Linked DNA regions of Homo sapiens. The protein of the gene in region 5 purifies or fractionates together with the protein of the main gene of each other region. This does not show direct contact. Each region holds a gene or a part of one and is shown on either strand. Other genes may lie near its edges. The genes, in order: WDR62, IFFO1, CAMKK2, GARRE1, DUSP16, ESPL1 and IFT172.

Region 1 (2,856 bases), on a different chromosome or scaffold from region 5:
TCCTGAGTAGCCGGGATTATAGGTGCAGGCCACCATACCCAGCTTGGGCAAGCCTGTTCATGGGTCCTCAGTTTCCCCTGTTGCAGATGGGGACACCACCACCGTGGACTTTGTGGGATCTAGTGTGGCCTTGGCCCAGAGGCCCTGAGCCATGATATGGCAAAGCGTGGACTGCTGGGCAAGGTAGGCACATGGTGATCACAGCAGCCCCAGTGAGTTCTCAGGCACTGGCAGGGGGCAGGTAAGAGGGTCTGGCTCCTCCCTGGGGCACAAATGGGCCCCACTGGGTAAGCACCTCACACTGGTCTGTGGCAGCTCTGTGGGCAGTGTGGGAGGACTGGCCCTGAGGTCATGGCTGCAGTTCCTGAACTTCTTGGGAGCGCTGGTCCCATGCTCTCCACTGACAGACACGAGTCCTCTGGGCATCACCTTCTACCCTCCCTCCCCACTTCCACTTGAAGAGGGCTTTGTGGATAGGCCCAAACAGACACCAGGAACCATTCCTCAAAGCTGTCAGTTTATTCGCTTAAAATACCTAAGTCCTCAGAAGCAGCAGGGCTGCGGTGGAGGGGCTGCGCCCTCAGTGCCCCCGTGCCTTCCTCCGCACGGCCTGCACCAGCAGCTCCGAGTAGTGTTCCAGCAGGGCCTGCAGGTCTGGGCTGGCCAGGGGGTACAGCGTCGGTGGGGACGGGGGTCCTGGGCTGGGCAGAGCCTGGGCTGGGGCCACACTAGTCCCCACCAGGCATTCAGCCTCCAGCTGGCTGTGGATCCACAGGAAGGTGGAGACCAGCTCAGTCCGTGCCTGCTGCTGCCCGGTGTCCACCTGGCCACTGGAGACCAACTGCAAGGGATGCCAGCCTTGTCAGGGGCCACCAAGGCCGGGCGGTCTCAAGAGACCCCTCAACCCTTTCCCAACTCTGGGGCTTAGCTCACCACACGGTAAAGGTCGAGGGCTTCTTGGAAGGTGGTCTGCAGCCTGTGCAAGATGTTCCCCACCCTGCTCAGCTCAAGGGGAGATGGGGGCAGGGCTTCAACCGGCACCCAGGGCTCACTCCAGCGGGCAGGGCTGCCCTGTAACAGACCAAGTGCACCTGGGGTAGAGAGAAGGGAATGAGCAAGATGAGCTGCATTCCATTGGTGTGAGCGGCCAGAGCGACTGGGTGGACTCCATGCTGTACTTCTGTCTGGAACACTTCTCTGGGTCCCCAAGGCTCCCTCCCCTTCACTCCTACAGGTCTCTGCTCCAATGCAGCCTCCTCCCTGAAGCCTCTTCTTATCTTCTGGTTTGTAATCCCAACCCCTGTCCCCACCCTGCACTCCCTCGCCCTCCTCTGTCCCTCCTAAGCATGTGTCACTTCGTGATACATATGACGGGTTCCTTAAAGGTTTAGTCTGGGCATTGTCCCCATTGAAGCTGTCAGTTCTCTGTGTTGTTTACCACCATGTCCCATGTCCCAGGGTTTAGCACAAAGCCCAACATGTAATGCTCATTAAATATTTAAGTTAATGCACGAATGAATGAATGGCACAGTCCCTGTGGCCAGGTCAAGTATCCATCTTTGGAGCTGAGCCAACTAGCACACAGGATGAGCTTAGGGGACAGTCCTTGCTCCAGGGCTGTACTCACCGGAGGTGGGCTCCAGGAGGGAGGCAGTGCCGCCAGGGATGCCAGGCCGGGCCTCTGGAAGCTGGGGGTTACTGGGGTGGGCAGGAAGGCCAGGGGACTCAGGAGCTGGGAGACTTGGGCGAAAGGCAGAGCCGTGGAGCCTCAGGGCGCTCTCTTCCACAGGGCTAGGGGCTGGGAAGCTCACTGCAGGGACGGTGACGCCAGGCTGGGTATCCACGGGGGGCTGCAGGAGCCCATCACAGGCACTTGACAGGGTCAGTCTCAGGTTGGCCCGGGCCTCGTGGTTGCCCCAGGAACGCAGGGCAGGCTCTTGGCCCTCACTGTCCAAACTGGGTGTTGTCGCGGTGGTGATGGCCTGAAGCTCCTGGCCCAAGGAGGCCAGCTCCCCAACGGACGATGGCCTACGGAGGGGCTGGGCCAGTGTGGCCACGATAGGGCCCTCACTGTCACCGAGGGAGATGCTGCGTGATATCCTGGCACGGGAGCTGGCAGTGGCCTCCATGTAGGAACAGGTGGAGGGGGCATGGACACCCTGAGCCAGGCCTGGGGTGGGTGCAGATGTGGGCGTTGGGAGATTCCTGTCTGTGGGCAGCACGGAGGAAGCAGGGACACAGGACGCCAGGCTCGTAAGGCAGGGAGCTGTAACGGAAGCAGATGGCACTGACTCCACCACACAGAACTGATGGCTAGGGCCCCCACGCCCCACAGCTAGGCTGGACATCCGGCCACTCGCCGAGAAACCCAGGACTGTCCGTCTGGGACTGGGGCACTCACGTGGTGGGCGCCAGGCCTCCAGGGTCTCTTCAGCCTTCCCTGCAGCGAGGACCTGCAGGCACAGCTCTGAGGTGAGGACAAGGCCTCAGGGTTCCCAGCCCCGTGCCCTGACGGAGGTGGGCCCAATACTCACGTGGGTCCTGTCTGGGGAGGCGTAGCCAGTACCTGCTCTGGGCTGGCTTCCGCCTCGGTCCATGAGCTTGACCTCTGGAGACTTCACAAGGCACTGGGTTGCCCGGGGAGGGAAGGTATGGGTGAACCTGTGGGGAGGAGAGCAGGGGGGATGATTCTCATTCAGCCTGCCCTGGGGCACTGTTGAGGAGCCAGAGGGTGGGCAGTGCTTGGCCAGCTTCTACCTGGATGCCTTCTGGAGGCTTGAGAGGAACTGCGTGGAGATACTCAGGCGTGGGTTGAAGAAGTGGTCTTCAGCTTCAGAGGCCTCCACGTCTCCCAGA
Region 2 (3,500 bases), 5.9 Mb from region 5:
CATAATGTGGATTGGACAGAGAGGGTGGGAACTTAGAGAAAGAAGGAAACAGGTTACAGGGCCAGACAGCAGAGATGGTCAGGACAGTGACATTTGGGGTGAGATGGCGGCTGGCTGGGTGAGAAGCCCTAGTGGGGACAGCTTCCCTGGCAGGCTTGGATCCACAGCTGGGGCCCCACAGTAGTGGGAGGAGCAGGACACGGTGACTGTTCAACCCAGGGGGAAAATACAGTGCCACCAGCCCTTGTTCAGATCAGCTGCCTACACCCCAATTTCTCCACCTTGGAAGAACCGGAGTGCAGGGAGCTGGGTTCTGGAACCATCACTCAGGGAGACTGGGAAGAAGGAAATGAACCAAATATATTCTACTGAAATACAAGGCTAGTACTGCCACCAGTAGTCTCTGCATATGTCTATGTCCCCACTTAATTCACAAATTTACAGCAGGAACAAGGTCAGGAGGTGAACGTGCATGTCAGGAGATGTCCTTGACAAGCCACCTTGAAAACTGCAGGCTCGCTGTGTGAACAGACTTGGGGGTGGGACGGGAGGAGACAGAGAGAGGTGAGGAGCGGTGGGGAAGAACTGCCTCCCGCCCACCACTCTGGGCCTTGGCTTTACCTTGCTCCATCTTAGTGACCCTGAGAGATCAAAGGTCACAAAGATAAAGGCACCTTGGGTACTCCTGAGGTCAGCAAGTCCTCCTAACGGTTCCCCTAATGCAGAAGTCCCCAAACCCCAGGCCACGGACCAGTACCTGTCTGTGGCCTGTTAGGAACCAGGCCAAATAGCAGGAGGTGAGCAGTGGGCAAGTGAGTGAAGCTTCATCTGTATTTACAGCTGCTCCCCATCACTGGCATTACAGCCTGAGCTCCACCTCCTGTCAGATCCGCGGCGGCATTAGATTCTCACAGGATCCTGAACCCTACCTTACGTGAACTGTGCATGCGAGGGATCTAGGCTGTGTGCTCCTTATGAGAATCTAATGCCTGATGATCTGTCACTATCTCCCATCACCCCCAGATGGGACCGTCTAGTTGCGGAAAACAAGTTCATGGCTCCCACTGATTCTACATTATGGTGAGATGTATAATTATTTCATTATATATTATAATGTAATAATAATAGAAATAAAGTGCACAGGCCGGGTGCGGTGGCTCATGCCTGTAATCCCAGCACTTTGGGAGGCCGAGGTGGTGGATCACCTGAGGTCGGGAGTTCGAGACCAGCTTGACCAACATGGAGAAACCCCATCTCTACTAAAAATACAAAATTAGCCAGGCGTGGTGGCACATGCCCGTAATCCCAGCTACTTGGGAGGCTGAGGCAGGAGAATTGCTTGAGCCCGGGAGGCGGAGGCTGCAGTGAGCCAAGATTGCGCCATTGCACTCCAGCCTGGGCAACAAGAGCAAAACTCTGTCTCTAAAAATAATAATAATAATTTTTAAAAATAGTAATAAAGTACACAATAAATGTAATGTTTGAATCATCTCAAAATCATTTCCCCCGGGTCAGTGGAAAAACTGTCTTCCACAAACCAGTCCCTGGTACCAAAAAGGTTGGGGACTGCTGCCTAAAGTCATTGCACTGGGAGAGAGGAGGAGTCAGATGATTTGAAAATACTTTTTTTTTTTTTTTTCCTGAGATGGAATCTTGCTCTGTCACCCAGGCTGTGGTGCAGTGGCACAATCTCAGCTCACTGCAGCCTCCACCTCCCAGATTCCAGCAATTCTCCTGCCTCAGCCTCCCAAGTAGCTGGGATTACAGGTGCCCACCACAATGCCTGGCTACTTTTTGTATTTTTAGTAGAGACGGGGTTTCACATGTTGGTGGCCAGGCTGGTCTCACACTCCTGACCTCAAGTGATCTGCCCGCGTTGGCCTCCCAAAGTGCTGGGATTACAGGCGAGAGCCACCACGCCCAGCCAAAAATAGCTTAAAAGGCATGATTCCATTTAAGATATTATTTTCGTTCTTTCAGATCATGTTTTACACTGGGCACTTGAGGTCCAGGGAAGACTAGGGAGAGATGGCAGCCCGAGATCTCTTCTCACGAAGATGGCCGCACAAAGGCCCCTAGTTGGTTGAAGGCACAGTGAAAACACAAACCTTAAATCCACCATCCAAAAGAGGGAGACAAGAATCAGGTCAGGCAGGAGGAGGAAACAGTGAGCCGCGGTAGACGGGAGGGTGGGGAGTACTGGTTTCCCTTGCCATGTCTTTAGCTAGCAGCACAAATCCAGGAAACCTCATCTACCTGGCCAAGAAAACCAGGTTTGATGCAGGAGCAGGACAGTTTGATGTGTGTTGGGAGAATGAGTATATAGGAAAATAATTTCTCGACTTCCTTCTCAAACACCTCCAATGTGACAGCAATAAGAATAAAGTCAAGGCCGGGCGCGGTGGCTCACGCCTGTAATCCCAGCACTTTGGAAGGCCGAGGCGGGTGGATCACGAGGTCAGGAGATCGAGACCATCCTGGCTAACATGGTGAAACCCCGTCTCTACTAAAAAATACAAAAAATTAGCCGGGCGTAGTGGCAGGCGCCTGTAGTCCCAGCTACTCTGGAGGCTGAGGCAGGAGAATGGCGTGAACCTGGGAGGTGGAGCTTGCAGTGAGCTGAGATCGCGCCACTGCACTCCAGCCTGGGCGACACAGCGAGACTACGTCTCAAAAAAATAAATAAATAAATAAATAAATGAAAAGAATAAAGTCACTCTCTCCTTATCCACTGGTTTCACTTTCCACGGCTTCAGGTACCCAAGGTGAACCTTGATCTGAAAATATTAAATGAAATATTCCAGAAATAAACAATTCCTAAGTTTTAAATTGCACGCTGTTCTGAGTGGCCTGATAAAATCTCACTCTCTCTGCCGGGCGCGGTGGCTCACGCCTATAATCCCAGCACTTTGGGAGGCCGAGGTGGGCGGATCATGAGGTCAGGAGATCGAGATCATCCTGGCTAACACGGTGAAACCCCATCTCTACTAAAAAATACAAAAGAAATTAGCCGGGCGTGATGGCGGGCGCCTGTAGTCCCAGCTACTCAGGAGGCTGAGGCAGGAGAATGGCGTGAACCCAGGAGGTGGAGCTTGCAGTGAGCCGAGTTCAAGCCACTGCACTCCAGCCTGGGTGACACAGCGAGACTCCGTCTCGGAAAAAAAAAAAAAAACCTCACTCTATCCAGACCAGGACATGAACCCTCCCTCTGTCCCAAGGATCCACACTGTCTATACTGCCTGCCCATTAGTTACTTAGGAGCCATCTCAGTGATGAGATTGACTGTCGTGGTATGGCAGTGCCCGTGTTCAAGGAACCCTTATTTTTACTTCATAATGGCCCCAAAGCACAAGAGTAGTGATGCTGGCAATTTGGATATGTGAAAGAGAAGCCAAAATATGCTCCCTTTAAGTGAAAAGGTAAAAGTTTTCAACTTAATAAGAAAAAGAATCCGATGCTGAGGTTGGTAAGCTCTACAGTAAGAATGAATCTTCTATCCG
Region 3 (3,500 bases), about 110 Mb from region 5:
AATAGGTCCTGCTATTATCCCTGTTCCACCAGTGGGGAAACTGAGGCACAGAGAGCCTGGCTGACTTGCTCACAATCATCCAGCTTCTGAGTGCTTCAGGAGGGCACAAGTGTGAATGCTCACTATATAGAAGCTATTGCCAAGAAAGAACTTTGGCAGTTACTGAATTCACGACCCTCAGTTGGCTTCCTTTTTTTGGGGGGCGGGGCGGTTGGGGACAGGGTCTCACTCTATTGCCCAGGCTGGAATGCAGTGGTGCAATCATAGTTCACTGCAGCCTCGAACTCCTGGGCTCAGGTGATCCTCCCACCTTACCTCCCAAGTATCTGGGACTACAGGCATACACCACCACACTTGGCTAATTTTTTGTATTTTTGGTAGAGATGGGGTTTTGCCATGTTGCCCAGGCTGTTCTCAAACTCCTGGGCTCAAGTGATCCACCTGCCTCAGCCTCCCAAAGTGCTGGGATTATAGGCATGAGCCACTGTGCCTAGCTGGTTTCAATTTATTTTAAAACGAAATCTCTTAAATCTCTAATCCTGCCGTGCTAACTCTTCATCTTCCCCTCTAGCCCTTGTCCATATGCATCACATTTTACAAAATTAAAAATAGCGTATGCATATCATTTCACATCCTTGCTTCCATGTGTCATAAGAGCACATTCTCACATGGCTTTTGCAATCAGCGCAACAGAGGCTGCAGATGGAGTCACCGAGACTCAGAGAAGTTGAGATGACCTCATCCAGGCAGCCCAGCAGGCTCGCAGTTGGGCCAGGAGGAGATCCAGGTGGCCTGCCCTGCAGCCCAGTGACCCTTGAGGCCCTGGATACTCACAGAGTAAGCAGTTCCCCTGTCTTGCTGCTTGCCAGGGCCAACTGTCTTAAGAATTCTTAGGCAGCTATTACTTAGTCAGTAATGAAATATCACTGAAAGAATGGCCCCAGTCACGCAGTCAGACATCTAAAGCCAGCTGTGGGCCAGGTACAGTGGTGGCTCACGCCTATAATGCTAGTGCTTTGGGAGGCCGAAGCAGGAAGATCGCTTGAGGCCAGGATTCGAGACCAGCTTGGGCAACACAGCAAGACCCCATCACCACACAAAAAAATGTTTACATTAGCCAAGTGTGGTGCTGCACACCTGTGGTCCCAGCTCCGTCAGAGGCTGAGGTGAGAGGATCCCTTGAGGCCAGGAGGTTGGGGCTGTACTGAGCTATGATTGCACCATTGCATTCCAGCCTGTGCAACAGAGAAAGGCTCTGTCTCGAAAATTTTTAAATTTAAAAAATATAAATAAAAATAAAACCAGGTGTGCATGGGTGGCCCCAGCCTTGAAGTGTGAGGAGCTTACGAATGTGTGGGTGAGTTTGGGTATGTGTTTAGAGGAGGGAGGTATTTGGAAATAAAGTGTAGAAACCATCTTCCTTCCTTCCTCTTCCCCCACTGCATCCCTCTCAATCTTTCACTGAACCAAAGGAAGAGGTTGGAAAACAACTGGAATTTCAGTTTGTAATGAACAAGAAAAAGACTTCTACCCAGCATGCTCTTGGCAAATCAGAGATGGAGAGGGCCAGCTCGAAACCCACAGGCATCGGTGCCTGGGCTACCCACGGCCCCTCTCCCTCCCTCCTCCCCACCTTTTGGACATCATGCTAAATCTAGCTGCAAGCCTCCTCAGCTGAGGGACAAGAAGAGTGCAGGGAGCCAGCTCTGCAGCTCTGCGGGGCCCAACGTCCCCACACCTGGACCTAGAGGGCAGAACTGTCCAGGATGAACCGAATAAAATATTTCTCTGCCAGAAGCCTTGAAGGCAATACCCCAAAGCACATTTCAAAAATGAAAAAGGGAGTGTGCTCTCCCTTCTGCACCCTGGCCCCCGCAAAACACTGGTTCCCCATTTAAACTTCTCTAACAGAAGCTTCTCTCAGGCACCACCCACAATGCTCCTACCCCACCCGCTGGGTTCCTGCCTCATGCCTAAGCCACGTGGGCAGAGGGGCAACACCTTGGCCTCCCCACTGACTCCCACCCCCCTTTCCTCCGAGGACCACCATCCCTCTCTTTTCCAGGTTGGGATTAGCATTTTTATCTCTGCAACTGCCATCTCTCAACTATTTACAGAAGCCACCAGGATAAAAAGAGGCAACATAAAAATAGTTGCTCAGCAGCTTTCAGGATGGGGTGGGGTGGGGGTGGGGGCACTACAGAATCTTCTCATTTTCTTTCATTCCTTTTCAAAAGGGAAAGGATGTCAGAATTGTTCATCTTTTCCAAAAGGCTCTGAGACCACTCACCTGGGACAGGAACCAAGTCCCAGTATTTCTCAGTTCCCCAGGGTATAGCCTGTCACCAGCACCAATCCCCCCACCCCACCCCAACCAAAAGAGCGGGCTGGGTGAAGGGTCGAGCCTGCAGAGCCAGGGCGCCCCACTCTGCCCCGTTTCCGTCACCTCCTGGGCCTCCTTCCAGCTTTCCAAAAAGCGAGCCAGTTTAAAAAAACAAAGCAAAACTTTGGCTTTTCTCTATGCTTAAAATGTTTCATAATTGAAAAAAAAAAACTTCAGTGGCAATACTACAAACATGACTGAAACCGAAACACTGGCAGCTAAAATAATCCCTTTCCCATTTGGATCACTAACGTCCCCAACGGGGAAAGCAGCAGCCAGGGGTCTTCCCTACAAAATCTAACAGAACTCACATCATTTTAAAGATGTCTTTTTTATTATTATTATCTTGGTTTTGTTGAGAAAGGGGTCCAATCAGGGAAGAAAACAAATAATAATTCTAAATCTTATTTCTCAGAGCCCAAAACTATTCGGAAATGCTTTCCATCCCATAACCTGCCAGGGAAGGTGGACTCCACTCCATCAGAAAACGAGCATAATTTGCCAGTACAAGGAGCCAAAGTTGGGAGCGATGGCTCATGCCTGTAATCCCAGCACTTTCGGAGACTGAGGCGGGCGGATCACCTGAGGTCAGGAGTTCGAGACCAGCCTGGCCTACATGGTGAAACCTCGTCTCCACTAAAAATACAAAAATTAGCCAGGCGTGATGGGACGTGCCTGTAATTCCAGCTACTTGGAAGGTTGAGGCACGACAATCGCCTGAACCCAGGAGGCAGAGGTTGCGGTGAGCTGAGATCATGCTACTGCACTCCAGCCTGAGAGACAGAGCAAGACCCTGTCTTTAAAAAAAAAAAAAAAAAAGGCGGGGCGGGGAGCCAAGGGAGGCCTAAGACCTCAGGAAGAGAAGGTACATCAGGAAAGGATACAGATCCCAGAGGACCTTGAGCCTTGATTTTCTCATCTGTGAAATGGTGCCAGACCTACCTAAGAGGGTGGCTATAGAGTTGATCTTCTCTATGGCAGTCCCTAGTACACAGCGTGGCTCAAGCTAATTGTTCCGCAAAGATCACGTCCTCCCTTCCTTTCTGTACTCCGCTTCCCTTGTCTGGAACATGGAAGGGTTCAGGAGCTGATCTCTGCTGGCCTTCCTCTCAGGCCA
Region 4 (3,500 bases), on a different chromosome or scaffold from region 5:
GGTGGCGGGCACCTGTAGTCCCAGCTACTCAGGAGGCTGAGGCAGGAGAATGGCGTGAACCGGGGAGGCAGAGCTTGCAGTGAGCTGAGATCATGCCACTGCATTCTAGCCTGGGCAACAGAGCAAGACTCCGTCCCCCCCTCCAAAAAAAAAAAGACATGTCATCACATGACACGTCCAAATTTCAGGCCTCCTCAAAGCTCTTGTCCTGTTTCTGACTCCTCTGCCTGCCTCAGGCTGGCTGGGACACACAACATGGAAAAAGTCCCTTTGTGTTATTTTCCCTCTAGAAATTACCCATATTTAACAACCATCATTTTGATGAAACCATCTTGGGCCACCTCAGTTCCCAAGGAGCCTTTCTGACTCCTGCAGCCTCTGCTGTCTCTGTCATTAGCTGCATGCTCTCCCTTTCCAAATGAACTGGGAGCATCAGAGACAGAGGCTGGACACATCTTTACACTTACGGTCATGCATAGCACAGGGACAGAGCAACAGAGACGACGACAAACACATACCTCCTGGGAACTGTTCCAAGGACTTTACAAATATTAACTCAGTAATGCCTCACTACAACCCCAGGAGGCAGGTATTACTACCTCCCCATTTTCAGAGGAGGTAAACTGAGGTCAAGGCAGGGGCAGGCCTTGAACCCAAGCCGCCTTGCACAGTCCTCACTCTTAACCTCCATGCTACATTCACTCTACACAACAGCCATGTCCATCATAGACATTTATTTTAAAAGTTATTGTTAAAATGAAAACATAGACCGGGTGCGGTGACTCGCGCCTGTAATCCCAGCACTTTGGGAGGCCGAGGTGGATGGATCACTTGAGGTCAGGAGTTCGAGACCAACCTGGCCAACATGGCCAACATGGTGAAACCCTGTCTCTATTAAAAATACAAAAATTAGCCAGACGTAGTGGCGGGCACCTGTAATCCCAGCTACTCAGGAGGCTGAGGCAGGAGAATCGCTTGAACCCAGGAGGCGGAGGTTGCAGTGAGCCAAGATTGCACCACTTCACTCCAGCCTAGGCAACAGAGCAAGACTCTGTCTCAAAAAAAAAAAAAGAAAAAAAAGAAAATACATATACACAGGGAAAAAAATTCACACCATACAAAATGGTATGCAAAGAAAAAGCTAACTCAGCCTAACAGCCTGGTTTTCTGGGGTCTCATCCCAAAAACAACCACTGTTTCTTTTCTATCATTCCATAAATTATTTCTGCACTTATAAACCTATTTCATGTATATCTATCTATCTATCTATCTATCTATCTATCTATCTCTCTATCGAGAGAGGGAGACATTATTTATTTTATTTTTATTTATTTATTTTTTGAGATGGAATCTTGCTCTGTCACCCAGGCTGGAGTGCAGTGGCACGATCTTGGCTCACTGCAACCTCCACCTCCCAGGTTCAAGCAATTCTCCTGCTGCAGCCTCCTGGACAGCTGGGATTACAGGCACCCGCCACCATGCCCAGTTAATTTTTGTATTTTTAGTAGAGGTGGGGTTTCACCATGTTGTCAGGCTGGTCTCAAACTCTGGACCTCAGGTGATCCGCCCGCCTCAGCCTCTCAAAGTGCTGGGATTACAGGCGTGAGCCACCATGCCTGGCCTATATATATTTTTTTAAACAAATGAGCTCATATTACTTCAAAAGTGGAGAAATTTTTTAAAATTAGAAAAACACAAATGGGCAAACATACATTGTTCTGTACCTTGCTTCTTTCACTGATTTCTCTGAGCTTGATCCACATCTGCACCTGTCCTGTTTTTATTAAATTCTAAGATATAAATATTTTTACATTTTAACTTCGTGGTTTTTCATGAAGTCAGAGGATCTTAGTGTGCTTGGACTTCATCAGGAAACAGGATCACAAAAAGCTTTTAAACATATATAAGACACTGGGAGTTATCTTGGCAGCCATGTGCAGGCTGAATCAAGAAGCAGAGGCCAGGCGAGGTGACTCACGCCTACAATCCCAGCACCTTGGGAGGCCAAGGCAGGCGGATCACCTGAGGTCAGGAGTTCCAGACCAGCCTAGCCAATATGGTGAAACCCCATCTCTACTAAAAATACAAAAATTAGCTGGGCGTGGTGACGCATGCCTGTAATCCCAGCTACTTGGGAGGCCAAGGCAGGAGAATTGCTTCGACCCAGGAGGTGGAGGTTGCAATGAGCTGAGATCGCACTACTGCATTCCAGCCTGGGTGAGAGAGAGACTCCGCCTCAAAAAAAAAAAAAAAAAAAAAAAAAAAAGCAGCAGCTGGGCATGGTGGCTCACTCCTGTAATCCCAGCACTTTGGGAGACCAAGGTGGGCGGATCACAAGGTAAGGAGTTCAAGACCAGCCTGGCCAATATGGTGAAACCCCGCCTCTATTACAAATACAAAAATTAGCCAGGCATGGTGGCACTCACCTGTAGTCCTAGCTACTCGGGAGGCTGAGGCAGAAGAATCGCTTGAACCCAGGGAGGCAGAGGTTGCAGTAAGTCGAGATCCTGCCACTGCCTTCCAGCCAGGGTGACAGAGCAAGATTCCATTTCAAAAAAAAAGGCAGGGAGACCTACCAGGTGACATGTGACATGATGCCACACATACCAGAGGTAAGTACCTACATCAAAGGGTTGTTGTGAGGATTAAACAATGCAATGTAGACAAAGCTCTCAGCATCAAACCTGGTTAGCGCAGTGAGTCGAAGGACTCAGCACAGGACCTGAAGTGCTGTTAGTGCCCAGTTAGACATTGTTATTAGTTATTTCAAGGACTGCTCCCACTTTCCAATGTCATTTCCCTCTACTCCTTATTCATACCTGTCCAGACTCTACCCTCAATCTCCTGCAGCTCAAATACCTCATGCTTGCTCTCACCTCCACACCTTTGGACGTGTCATGCCCCTGCCCAAGAGTCCTCCCCTCTTGCTGTGGCACTGGACTTACTTTTTCCCACAGTACTCAGCTCAAGAACAGCCTTCTCCAGAAGTCTCCCCTGAGAACTGCAGGCTGGATTCCCTGGATGAGCAGTGTAGGAAGAGCTTATCTGTCATTACTTCCCAGTGTCTGTTTATCAGCTTATTCAATGCACCCAGAAGCAAGCAGTTCCATGGGGATTAATTATTTAGGCTATCTAAGCTCAAAGAAAACTGATGTATGAACCAGAGGCCAGTTACTACTTTATGAATACCAACGAGAGCTAATACTGTCATTGAATACTTATCACAGGTGCCGGGTAGCACGCTCAGAGCCCTCACTGCAACACTAAGAGAAAGGTGCTACTATTATCCCCATTCTACAAATCAGAAAACTGAAAGATTAGCCAGCATCCCAAGACCAGGATCTGATCCAAGCAGCTTAGATGCAGAGCCCTCAACCACTCACATTCTCTCCTTACCAAGAAATCTCCACGTGCAGCTATCTTCTACTCAGATGGTACTGGGAGGACAGACGCTAAGCAAGGGAGAGACCCTTGCAGCCAGAGGCAACAACAGGGACACG
Region 5 (3,082 bases):
TCCCTCCACACCTCCCGGCAAGCTGAGGGAGCCGGCTCCGCCTTGGCCAGCCGAGAAAGGGGCTCCCACAGTGCAGCGGCGGGCTGAAGGGCTCCTCAAGTGCCGCCAAAGTGGAAGCCCAGGCAGAGGAGGTGCTGAGAGTGAGTGAGGGGTGTGAGGGCTGCCAGTGCGCTGTCACCTCTCACTAATTTCCCCTTAGTTTATTTTTTGTTTAAAATGGAGTTTCGCTCTTGTTGCCCAGGCTGGAGTGCAATGGCGAAATCTTGGCTCACTGTAACCTCCACCTCCTAGGTTCAAGCAATTCTCGTGCCTCAGCCTCCCAAGTAGCTGGGATGACAGGCACCCACACCTGGCTAATTTTTGTATTTTTAGTAGAGAAGGGATTTCACCAGGTAGGCCCGGTTGGTCTCAAACTCCTGACCTCAGGTAATCCACCTGCCTTGGCCTCCCAAAGTGCTGGGATTACAAGCGTGAGCCACCGCCCCCAGCCTCCCCTCTTAGTTTAATTCCTGGTCTAATTGTAGTTGTCACATCCAAACCAGTCCTCCAACAATAGCCTGCTGAGGCTGGTCATGAAGGGGCTCCGAGCACTGTCAGCAACTGGCCTGAACTTCAGGCTCTCCCAAGATCTGCATCTTCTCATTGGAAGCCTCTCACTGAAACAACTGTTCCTCCTGTTACCCTCTATCTCTGGAGGCTGATTTATTCTAATTCCCTTTATTCCTCTATCTCACTTCCACCTCTTTTTCTGCAGGGTCCTGGCCAAGATAGCTCTTCTAGTCTAGCTCACCCGGCCCAATCTTTCTTATAAATTTTCTTAAATGTAACTTCAACTCAACCAACTTCAAGGTCACCTGTGATTCTTTCTGTAGTCAATATTCCATCTGTTTGCACTGAAGCTTTATTCCTTCAATGCCTAATTTTTATGAAACTGATGAGACTAAGTTTCTAGTCTCATAAGTCATCAAATCTAGTGTCATGAGCAGAGAGGTTGTTGAGATGTATGTGGCAAGGACAAAGGACAGCTCTTCAACAATTGCCCTTCCTGTTTTTCCTGTAGGAATCGTAACATCATTTACATGTTATATCGAAATGGGCCATGTGTGTGTAGCTGGCCTTTTTTTTCCTACCATGTACTTGTGTGTTCTGGAATCAGTCAGCTAGAAAATATTTACCAAGTGTCTTAGGCTTTTTCACTGTAGTGTGCATTTAACGTACACAGTAAAGAATGAAGGCTGGCACTAAACTGTTAGCTAATCATCCGGTGTTCCATGTGAATGACAGAACACGGAATAAACCTGATGACACCACCACTTTATTTTGAGCTAAATCCTCATTTAAGTGAGAACAGGACAGGTTTCACCACTGCCTCCTTTGGCAACTTGAGTGGTGGTGTTCCCACCGAGTTTATGGCTGCAAAGATAGGTCTTTTCTCGTATTTATGTATAAACAGGTACCAGTTTTGATTTTATTTAATCATTTCATACATTAACATACATGACACATCAAAATGAGAAATGCACAGTTTAACCGTTCAACAGCTGGCCTTACTTCAAAAGAACACTATATTCATATTAAACATTTACAGTCTTTCCATCTAACTTTACACATGTCCTAAATCATTTTCCAGCACTTCTCACATAGAAGTCTAGTTTTGCTCTTTAAAATCACCATCTGTATCACCCCTAGTAGACGCGAGGGTTTCCCCAATTACATGCTGAAGAGAGCCAGCCACCACCCCACCTAAAGACATCCAAGCAGCTCCAGAGCCTGCCTCCGAGGCCACCCCTTCGCCACGGCAGTCTCGATTCCAAGAACTGATTATCTGACACTAGTGAACCAGCACTAAAGGCTGTAGGATGTGACTACATCACAGTTCCAGAAGGAAGGGGGACCATGGCCAAGAGAAGCCCTAAATGACAGAAGCTCATTAAAACCAAGTCCCCCAAACCTCCTGAAACATCGTTAGCAAGGAGCTACTGCTTTCCTTTCTTAAACATGTTTTGGGCATGACCACACTCTGGAAGTGGTGAACTGTTACACATTTGGTGTGTGTGTACATAACATCAAAAACTACTGTGTGAAACTTGAGAATGTCTGATTAAAGATTTCAATGTATATCTAAAAACTAACTCAAATCGTTGACCAGCACTTTCCCAGTATCATAACAATGCGGCTGACCCTCTTCTGCCTTCACTTTACACCCCATCATAGCACATTATTTGTGCACAACTAGTGAGGTCTGTGCGGCTCATCATCCCCATAACCAAGTCGGTCTGTGTTGAGTCATATCATTCTGTGCTGGTTTTAGAAGTCACCATAGGAAACATGAAGTCACATCCTGGTCAAAAAACTGTCCATTTCTCAAAAACAGAGAAAAACCTGAGATACGAGGCAGCAACTAGCGACACTTACAGGAAGGGAAAGAACAATGACAACACCCGCCCAGCCCCACCCCCAAAAAGCTGCTGTTGTGAATTAAGGCTTCAAAAGAGGACCCACATTGTAGCTGATAAAACTCAAGCCAGGAGGATGTTTGAAAGCCAATCTGCACTATCACTTGTTCCAGTGACCTCCTATGTTCAGCTGCCAGGACCGATTCCATACAGTGATTGTAGGTTGAGGACTGAGGACGCCCCTTTGCTCTCGCTCCATTTTGATTTGCTTTTTCCACTGAAGACACGCCGGCCAGCGTTTCCAAAAACAGCTTGGCCATGGCTTTGCACTCTATTCACAACTGATCAAAACTCAATGGTCTTCTCAGCTTTCTCAACCGTTTTATTCTGAATATTCCTTCCTCACTAAAGCCTCTCTCAGCCCTACTAGTAAATGTGAAAGTCTGAGGCAATCATAGAAACATCAGCCCCATCGCATGCCGAGGGGATAAAAGCCACTAAGGAAACAGGTTTCCTGCTTCTCCTCAGCAATTTGTACCTTTCTTAATCTTCCCATAATTTACCTCCCTAGGAAGTTTCCTATAAAATTCTGCCATATTATTACATTTTACCAACTGTATCCATGCAGTGAAGCAGAAAGGGCAAAAACATCTGCTTTGGCTGAGAATTTGAAGGTGCTGCTGCTC
Region 6 (3,500 bases), about 41 Mb from region 5:
CAGACCAAACTGGAGAGGAACCAGTGAGTGTGTATGGTGGAAGGGGATATGCATGCAATAGGTACATACACCACATGAGGGGGCGGGGTTGGCAGGTGGGCCTCCTGAGCCACACCCACCCAAGGCAGGAGACACCTAAGAATGAAATACTCTGAGTGCCTTCAACTCAGAGGCTGCAATCCACTCCACCCCTATGTTCATCATCCACACCCTTGAAAACCTGCTTCTCCTGTAATCCTTCTCAGCAAATGGCACTGCCTTCTCCTGAGTAAGAAATGTGGGGCCATCTCTGATGTTCCCTTCTCTCGCTCTCCCTCCCGCCAGTCACCTACCAGGTTAATCCTTGGCTTCTCGCACCGATCCACTGCATTCCATCCCTCGTGCAGCTGCTTCAGTTCAGCCCACCCTTCCCTGCCTAGAATACTATAGCAGCCTGATTACCCGGTCTTTTCTCCTGCACTCCATTCATCACAGCGAAGTCAGGGAAATCCAAAATGCCTGTCTGCTGTCATGCCTCCACTTAAATCCTTTAGAGGCTTATCATCTCAGTTAAGATGAAACCCAAGCCCCTCTATGACTCATCTTGCTTGCCAATCCCGCCAATGCATCAGTTCACAGGTATTCTTGCTTAAGAACACTGGTTCTTGCCCAGCGCGGTGGCTTGCGCCGGTAATCCCAGCACTTTGGGAGGCCGAGGCGGGTGGATCATGAGGTCAGGAGTTCAAGACCAGCCCGGCCAAGATGATGAAACCCCCGTCTCTACTAAAAATACAAAAATTAGCCAGGCATGGTGGCGCATGCCTATAATCCCAGCTACTCAGGAGGCTGAGGCAGAGAATTGCTTGAACCCAGGAGGTGGAGGTTGCAGTGAGCCGAGATCGTGCCACTGCACTCCAGCCTGGGTGACAAAGCAAGAGCAAGACTCAGTCTCCAAAAAAAAAAAAAAAAAAAAAAAAAAAAAACCAAAAAACCAAGAACCCAGGTTCTCACTCTCCTTGCTCAAAGGACCACCTGGGGGATCTTTGAAAATATTCAGATGTGAGATGGAGTCTTGCTCTGTAGCCCAGGCTGGAGTACAGTAGCACAATCTCGGCTCACTGCAAACTCCACCTCCTGGGTTCAGGCAATTCTCCTGCCTCAGCCTCCAAAGTAGCTGGGATTACAGGCACATGCCACCACGCCTGGCTAATGTTTGTATTTTCAGTAGAGACGGGGTTTCACCATGTTGGACAGGCTGGTCTCAAACTCCAGACCTCAGGTGATCCACCTGCCTCAGCCTCCCAAAGTGCTGGAATTATAGGCGTGAGCCATCACGCCCGGCAAACACTAGAGATTCTGATGCAATTAACTCGGGGCAGACATTAGAATTTTCTTAAAGGTCACTCAGGTGATTCTAATGTGCAGCTTGGCTGGAAACCAGTAGCTTAGGACCAGGCTAAATATAAAAAGTGAGTCAGGCCGGCTGCGGTGGCTCACACCTGTAATCCCAGCACTTTGGGAGGCTGAGGCAGGCGGATCACCTGAGGTCTGGAGTTTGAGACCAGCCTGGCCAACCAAAATGGTGAAACCCCGTCTCTACAAAAAATACAAAAATTAGCTGGGCGTGGTGGTGGGCACCTGTAATCCCAGCTACTTGGGAGGCTGAGGCAGGAGAATTGCTTGAACCTTTGCTGAGGCAAAGGTTGCAGTGAGCCAAGATTGTGCCACTGCACTCCAGCCTGGGCGACAGAGCGAGACTCGTCTCAAAAAAAAAAAAAAAAAAAAATGAGTCAACAGTAAGTAACAGTACAGTGAGGTTTGGGAAACACTGCTCCAGATACTGGTGTCAACATGCTGCTATTAACCTCCCACTCCAAGGCAGGGTGCTGGTGAGGCCCTTCCCCGCTCCCCCCGCTCCCCAACCACATAAGCTCCTTTCCTGCATCTCTCATTCCCTTGTACCTTCTCAGGAGGCACCTCGGGATAAGTGCCTGGCTTCACCAAACCCAGGTGCTGACAGAGCGGCTCAGAGATGGCACAGGCCTCGGCATAGAGCTTGTGACTATAGAAGCTGTAGGCCAAATTACTGGTGTAAGAAGCTGCAGGGGAGAAAAGGCACAATTGACCATAGGAAAGGCTCCCACCACCCTCTCCTCCTGGAGAGGCAGCAGAGATCAGCTGGATCTGTGGTCAGTTCAGCAGCTTCCAGATCAGACAGGAACCCCTACTGCTAGGAATGGGGAAGGGGCGGCTCTCCCCTTCCTGCCCCAAATAGGCCCATGCCCTTCACACCACTCAGCCCATCTGCACTCATTTTACAAACGAGACCCCCTCCTGCCTCAGCACTGGCTGTTTCTTCTGCCAGGGATGTTCTTTTCCAGGAACCCACATGGCTGACTCCCTCACATCCTCCAAGCCTTTGCTCATGTCACCCTCTCAATGAGGTCTACCCTGACCACCTGATTTAAGGTGGTAACTTGCCCCCCGTCATGCACCTTAGACTCCCAATTCCCTTTCTTATCCTGCTCTACTTTTCCTTTCCCCCACATTTCTTATCACGTTCTAATATGTTGATAATTCACTTATTTACTGAATCTGTTTATCTTTTCCCCCCAAACTAGAACGTGGCTCCATGAGGGAAGGAAACTTTGTTTTGCTTACCGACACATCCAAGTACTCCAAATAGTGCGTTGCACACAGTGAGTACTCAACAAATTTTTTTTTTTTTTTTTTGAGACAGAGTCTTGCTCTGTCGCTCAGACTGGAGAGCAGTGGCACGATCTTGGCTCACTGCAAGCTCCACCTCCCGGGTTCACACCATTCTCCTGCCTCAGCCTCCTGAGTAGCTGGGAGTACAGGCGCCTGCCACCACGCCCGGCTAATTTTTTGTATTTTTAGTAGAGACGGGGTTTCACTGTTAGCCAGGATGGTCTCGATCTCCTGACCTCGTTATCCGCCCGCCTCGGCCTCCCAAAGTGCTGGGATTACAGGCGTGAGCCACTGCGCCCGGCAACAAATATTTGCTGAATAAATGATAATAACTTATTTATGCAGCTTCTTGGCCATCAACATAGATGACTGGGAGAAAATAAAGTCAGTCTTCAGTACTCTGTGGGAAGAATTCTCCTTTTTTTTTGAGATGGAGTTTCGCTCTTGTTGCCCAGGCTGGAGTGCCCTCTTGCCCAGGCTGGAGTGCAGTGGTGCAATCTTGGCTCACTGCAACCTCCACCTTGCAGGTTCAAGCGACTCTCCTGCCTCAGCCTACCAAGTAGCTGGGATTACAGGCATGCACCACCTTGCCTGGCTAGTTTTCTATTTTTAGTAGAGACAGGGTTTCAGGGAAGCCAAGGTGGGCAGATCACTCGAGTCCAGGAGTTCAAGACCAGCCTGGACAATATGGCCAGACATCATCTCTACAAAAAATACAAAAATTAGCCAGGCATAGTGGTGCGCGCCTGCAGTCCCAGCTACTTGGGAGGCTGAGGCAGGAGAGTCGCTTGAACCTGCAAGGTGAGCTCGTT
Region 7 (3,500 bases), on a different chromosome or scaffold from region 5:
ACCAAAAGGAAAGAGGCTACAATCATTGGACTCAAGGGCACAACATATTAATGGGATAAAAGGGAAAAACTAGCCCTGCCTACACACAATTTTTTGTCCCTTTTGTGACCTAGGGTAAAGTATGAATTTCTCTTTCCTGCCTTTAATGCCAGAATTTTAGGTCAGGGTCAAAAGGAAAGAGGAGATTCTATAGTGTCAGGGAACAGTGCTTTAGGATAAGGCAGGATTTTTTTCTAGTTTGGTGAAAGTCACCAATCCAGAAAGGGATTACTAGTAACACACCACACAGAGCCGTGAGCCATCCCGCTTCCAGGCCAAGGCAGTGATGGTGTATAAATTGGTAATCTCCTTGGGCTTTGCCTCTTCCCAGATGCTTCTTCGAGGGATCCAGTTGAACACCCGAAGCCTGAAATAAAGTATGTGGCTTTTAGAAGAGATTGAGGCTGAGCTAAAGAGTGCAAATGGGCTGATAACCAAAGGAAATTAGTCTTGCTATATCAGAAAAGAAAGGAAATAAAAAGAACAGACAAGCTAGGCAGTCTAGCAGAAGAGGATATAAAGGTGCACAGGAAATAAGCTGGGAAAATCAAGGCAAAACTAAAACAGAATAAGAGTGAGGGGAGCAGAGAAAACAAAAAGACCAGGGCAGGTGAGAAAAATAAGCTACTAGGAGCAAAAAAATATGGAACAAGGAGATAAATGGTAGGAGTCAGTGAAGAAAGAAGAGAATACAAGGAGACATAAGATTGAAGGGGATAGAAAGACAGGACTGATAAAGCTGGGGTTAAACACATGCCAGAGAAATGATGAGACCTGGAACATGGCTGTTTATCTGCTGTTCCATCATTCATTCATTCATTCGCCAAACATCTGAGCATATCTTAAATATATATAGCATATAGATGCTAATCTAGGCACTGAAAAGATGAATAATAAGCCCCCTTCTCAAGGACTCTGATTTAGCCATCTATCTGGCTAAACAACAGTAGTTTGCAAACAACAAACTGTAATATAATGTGAGAAACTCTAAGCGGTCTCAAAGGGGGCAATGGAAACAGAAAATAGAGATGAATTCTGCTGTGGAAGTGCAGGGAGCGGCACAGAGACAAAACAAGAGCCCAGGACATTTTGGAACTGCCAGCACACCAATGGATAGCGGGAGCAGGAAGAGGAAAGCGCATGAATTACATACATACATTTGATTCTGCTCCAGTCTCGCACTCTGGCTCAGAATAATTTGGCTAAAGCAGAGAGTGTTCGCAGGGAAAGTAGGCAGTAGATAAAACTGGAAAGGGGACTTACCTGTCATAACTTCCTAGCACAACAGACTGGCCCCCAGGACTTGATACAGCTGTGGTGAACTCCCGCTCCTGAGGGTCACGGCTATAATCAAAAGTTTGTAGCATGTGACCTTCTTTTCCATAGGCTACAATTTTCCGATCACAGCCTGCAGCCACGATGCTATTGGTTGCCCATGCCAAGGCATAGGGTGGACACGGGTGGTTAACCAACTTCCCCTAAGACAGAAGTAGAGGGTTTCAATCACTCTTCGAAGACTCCACCCGAGAAATTCCTCACTCTCAACACCTGGTACATTCACTCTGACCATCATACCCTGCAGAAATCTCTTCCAACATTTCCCTATCCCAACACATCCTAATCCTGAACTCTTCACAAATTGTCACACACACACACACACACACACACACATACACACACACACACACCCCTATACACATAGGGGTTGACCTTGTGCTCTAGAAAAACCTCAAAATGCTTGTATATTGGAATTTTCTTTTTTCTTTTTTTTTTTTTTGAGACAGAGTCTCACTCTGCCGCCCAGGCTGGAGTGCAGTGGCACAATCTCATCGCTGCAACCTCCGCCTCCCCAGGTTCAAGCGATTCTCCTGTCTCAGCCTCCTGAGTAGCTGGGATTACAGGTGTGTGCCACCATACCAGGCTAATTTTTCTGTTTTTAGTAGAGATGGGGTTTCACCATGTTGGTCAGGCTGGTCTCGAACTCCTGACCTTGTGATCAGCCCGTCTCAGCCTCCCAAAGTGCTGGGATCACAGGCGTGAGCCACCACGCCCAGCATGTATTGGAAATTTTTAATATGCACCTGGTAAAGCTCCTCAGAAAAGGAGATGTGCTACACATTAACCAACACCGTCTGGGCCCACAAAGAGCATAGGGCTTCTTTTTTTAAGGAGGGTCAAATTTCAGTATTATACGAATAATTCTTCTTTTTTTTTTTTTTTAGATGGAGTCTCACTCTGTCGCCGGGGCTGCAGTGCAGTGGCGCGTTCTCACCTCACTGCAACCTCCCCTCCCGGGTTCAAGCAATTCTCCTGCCTCAGCCTTCCGAGTAGCTGGGATTCCGGGCACGTTCCACCATGCCCGGCTAATTTTTATATTTTTAGTAGAGACGGGGTTTCACCATGTTGGCCAGGCTGGTCCTGAACTCCTGACCTCAGGTCATCCACCCGCCTTGACCTCCCAAAGTGCTGGGATTACAGGAGTGAGACACTGTGCCCGGCCTATACAAGTAATTCTTTTTTTTTTTGAGATGGCATTTCACTCTTGTTGCCCAGTCTGGAGTTCAATGGCATGCGATCTTGGCTCACTGCAACCTCTGCCTCCCAGGTTCAAGCGATTCTCCTGCCTCAGCCTCCCAGAAAGCTGGGATTACAGGCATGTGCCACCACGCCCAGCTAATTTTTTTGTATTTAGTAGAGACGGGTTTCACGTCAGGCTGGTTTCCAACTCCTGACCTCAGGTGATCCACCCGCCTCGGCCTCCCAAAGTGCTGGGATTACAGGCACGGCTCACAAGTAATTCTTAATGTAAATGATTCAAACAACACACAATTATATAGAGTAAAACATGAAAGTTTCCTTTTTATCCCCCATCTTTTTCCTTTCCCCTTTCCAGAGTAAACTATTAACTCTTTTTTCTATGAATCTACATACATAAATATATATATTTTACATAAATGGGAATAATTTTCACTTTTCATTACTCTAAGAGTTTTTATTTCCCTTTGTCTCAAGGTCCCTTTCACCTAATTCATCCCTTCTTATAAGCAGTAAGCTCCAGGCTCCTAAACACAAATCCTCTCAGTGGCCACATCCAACTTTTTCTCTGTCCCTGAGTTCTCCTCTAGCTTCCTCTCTTAGTATCTCAATCCAAATGCCTTAGAAGTCCAACCTCCTCTAGGAGGGCTCCTGGAATTTCCTTATCCCCTATTCCACAGCATCTTTTTTTTTTTTTTTTTTTGAGACACGGTCTTGTTCTGTCACCCAGGCTGTAGTGCAGTGGTGCTATTTCAGCTCACTTGCAGGCTCAACCTCCTGGGCTCAAGTGATCTTTCCACTTCGGCTTCCTGAGTAGCTGGGACTACAGGCCCATGCCACCATGCCCGACTAATTTTTGTATTTATTTTTTGTTTTTTTGGTAGAGACAGGGTTTCACTGTGTTGCCCATGCTGGTCTCAAACTCC

What was found.
Region 1: the proteins of DUSP16 (region 5) and WDR62 purify together in Homo sapiens (affinity purification with mass spectrometry; one large-scale study listed by BioGRID and IntAct). This does not show direct contact.
Region 2: the proteins of DUSP16 (region 5) and IFFO1 purify together in Homo sapiens (affinity purification with mass spectrometry; one large-scale study listed by BioGRID and IntAct). This does not show direct contact.
Region 3: the proteins of DUSP16 (region 5) and CAMKK2 purify together in Homo sapiens (affinity purification with mass spectrometry; one large-scale study listed by BioGRID and IntAct). This does not show direct contact.
Region 4: the proteins of DUSP16 (region 5) and GARRE1 purify together in Homo sapiens (affinity purification with mass spectrometry; one large-scale study listed by BioGRID and IntAct). This does not show direct contact.
Region 6: the proteins of DUSP16 (region 5) and ESPL1 purify together in Homo sapiens (affinity purification with mass spectrometry; one large-scale study listed by BioGRID and IntAct). This does not show direct contact.
Region 7: the proteins of DUSP16 (region 5) and IFT172 purify together in Homo sapiens (affinity purification with mass spectrometry; one large-scale study listed by BioGRID and IntAct). This does not show direct contact.

The regions. Positions count from the first base shown.
Region 1 is NC_000019.10:36,102,753-36,105,608, reverse strand, and holds the end of WDR62 (WD repeat-containing protein 62), read right to left. Parts: coding exon 2,758-2,856; intron 2,662-2,757; coding exon 2,535-2,661; intron 2,454-2,534; coding exon 2,402-2,453; intron 2,267-2,401; coding exon 1,628-2,266; intron 1,092-1,627; coding exon 934-1,091; intron 842-933; coding exon 581-841; 3' UTR 501-580; downstream 1-500. UniProt on the Homo sapiens protein: Required for cerebral cortical development. Plays a role in neuronal proliferation and migration.
Region 2 is NC_000012.12:6,542,543-6,546,042, forward strand, and holds part of IFFO1 (non-homologous end joining factor IFFO1), read right to left. Parts: intron 1-3,500. UniProt on the Homo sapiens protein: Nuclear matrix protein involved in the immobilization of broken DNA ends and the suppression of chromosome translocation during DNA double-strand breaks (DSBs).
Region 3 is NC_000012.12:121,286,710-121,290,209, forward strand, and holds part of CAMKK2 (calcium/calmodulin-dependent protein kinase kinase 2), read right to left. Parts: intron 1-3,500. UniProt on the Homo sapiens protein: Calcium/calmodulin-dependent protein kinase belonging to a proposed calcium-triggered signaling cascade involved in a number of cellular processes. Isoform 1, isoform 2 and isoform 3 phosphorylate CAMK1 and CAMK4. Isoform 3 phosphorylates CAMK1D.
Region 4 is NC_000019.10:34,261,054-34,264,553, reverse strand, and holds part of GARRE1 (granule associated Rac and RHOG effector protein 1), read right to left. Parts: intron 1-3,500. UniProt on the Homo sapiens protein: Acts as an effector of RAC1.
Region 5 is NC_000012.12:12,472,782-12,475,863, forward strand, and holds the end of DUSP16 (dual specificity protein phosphatase 16), read right to left. Parts: 3' UTR 501-3,082; downstream 1-500. UniProt on the Homo sapiens protein: Dual specificity protein phosphatase involved in the inactivation of MAP kinases. Dephosphorylates MAPK10 bound to ARRB2.
Region 6 is NC_000012.12:53,271,299-53,274,798, reverse strand, and holds part of ESPL1 (separin), read right to left. Parts: intron 2,079-3,500; coding exon 1,942-2,078; intron 1-1,941. UniProt on the Homo sapiens protein: Caspase-like protease, which plays a central role in the chromosome segregation by cleaving the SCC1/RAD21 subunit of the cohesin complex at the onset of anaphase. During most of the cell cycle, it is inactivated by different mechanisms.
Region 7 is NC_000002.12:27,479,744-27,483,243, forward strand, and holds part of IFT172 (intraflagellar transport protein 172 homolog), read right to left. Parts: intron 1,518-3,500; coding exon 1,303-1,517; intron 407-1,302; coding exon 283-406; intron 1-282. UniProt on the Homo sapiens protein: Required for the maintenance and formation of cilia. Plays an indirect role in hedgehog (Hh) signaling, cilia being required for all activity of the hedgehog pathway.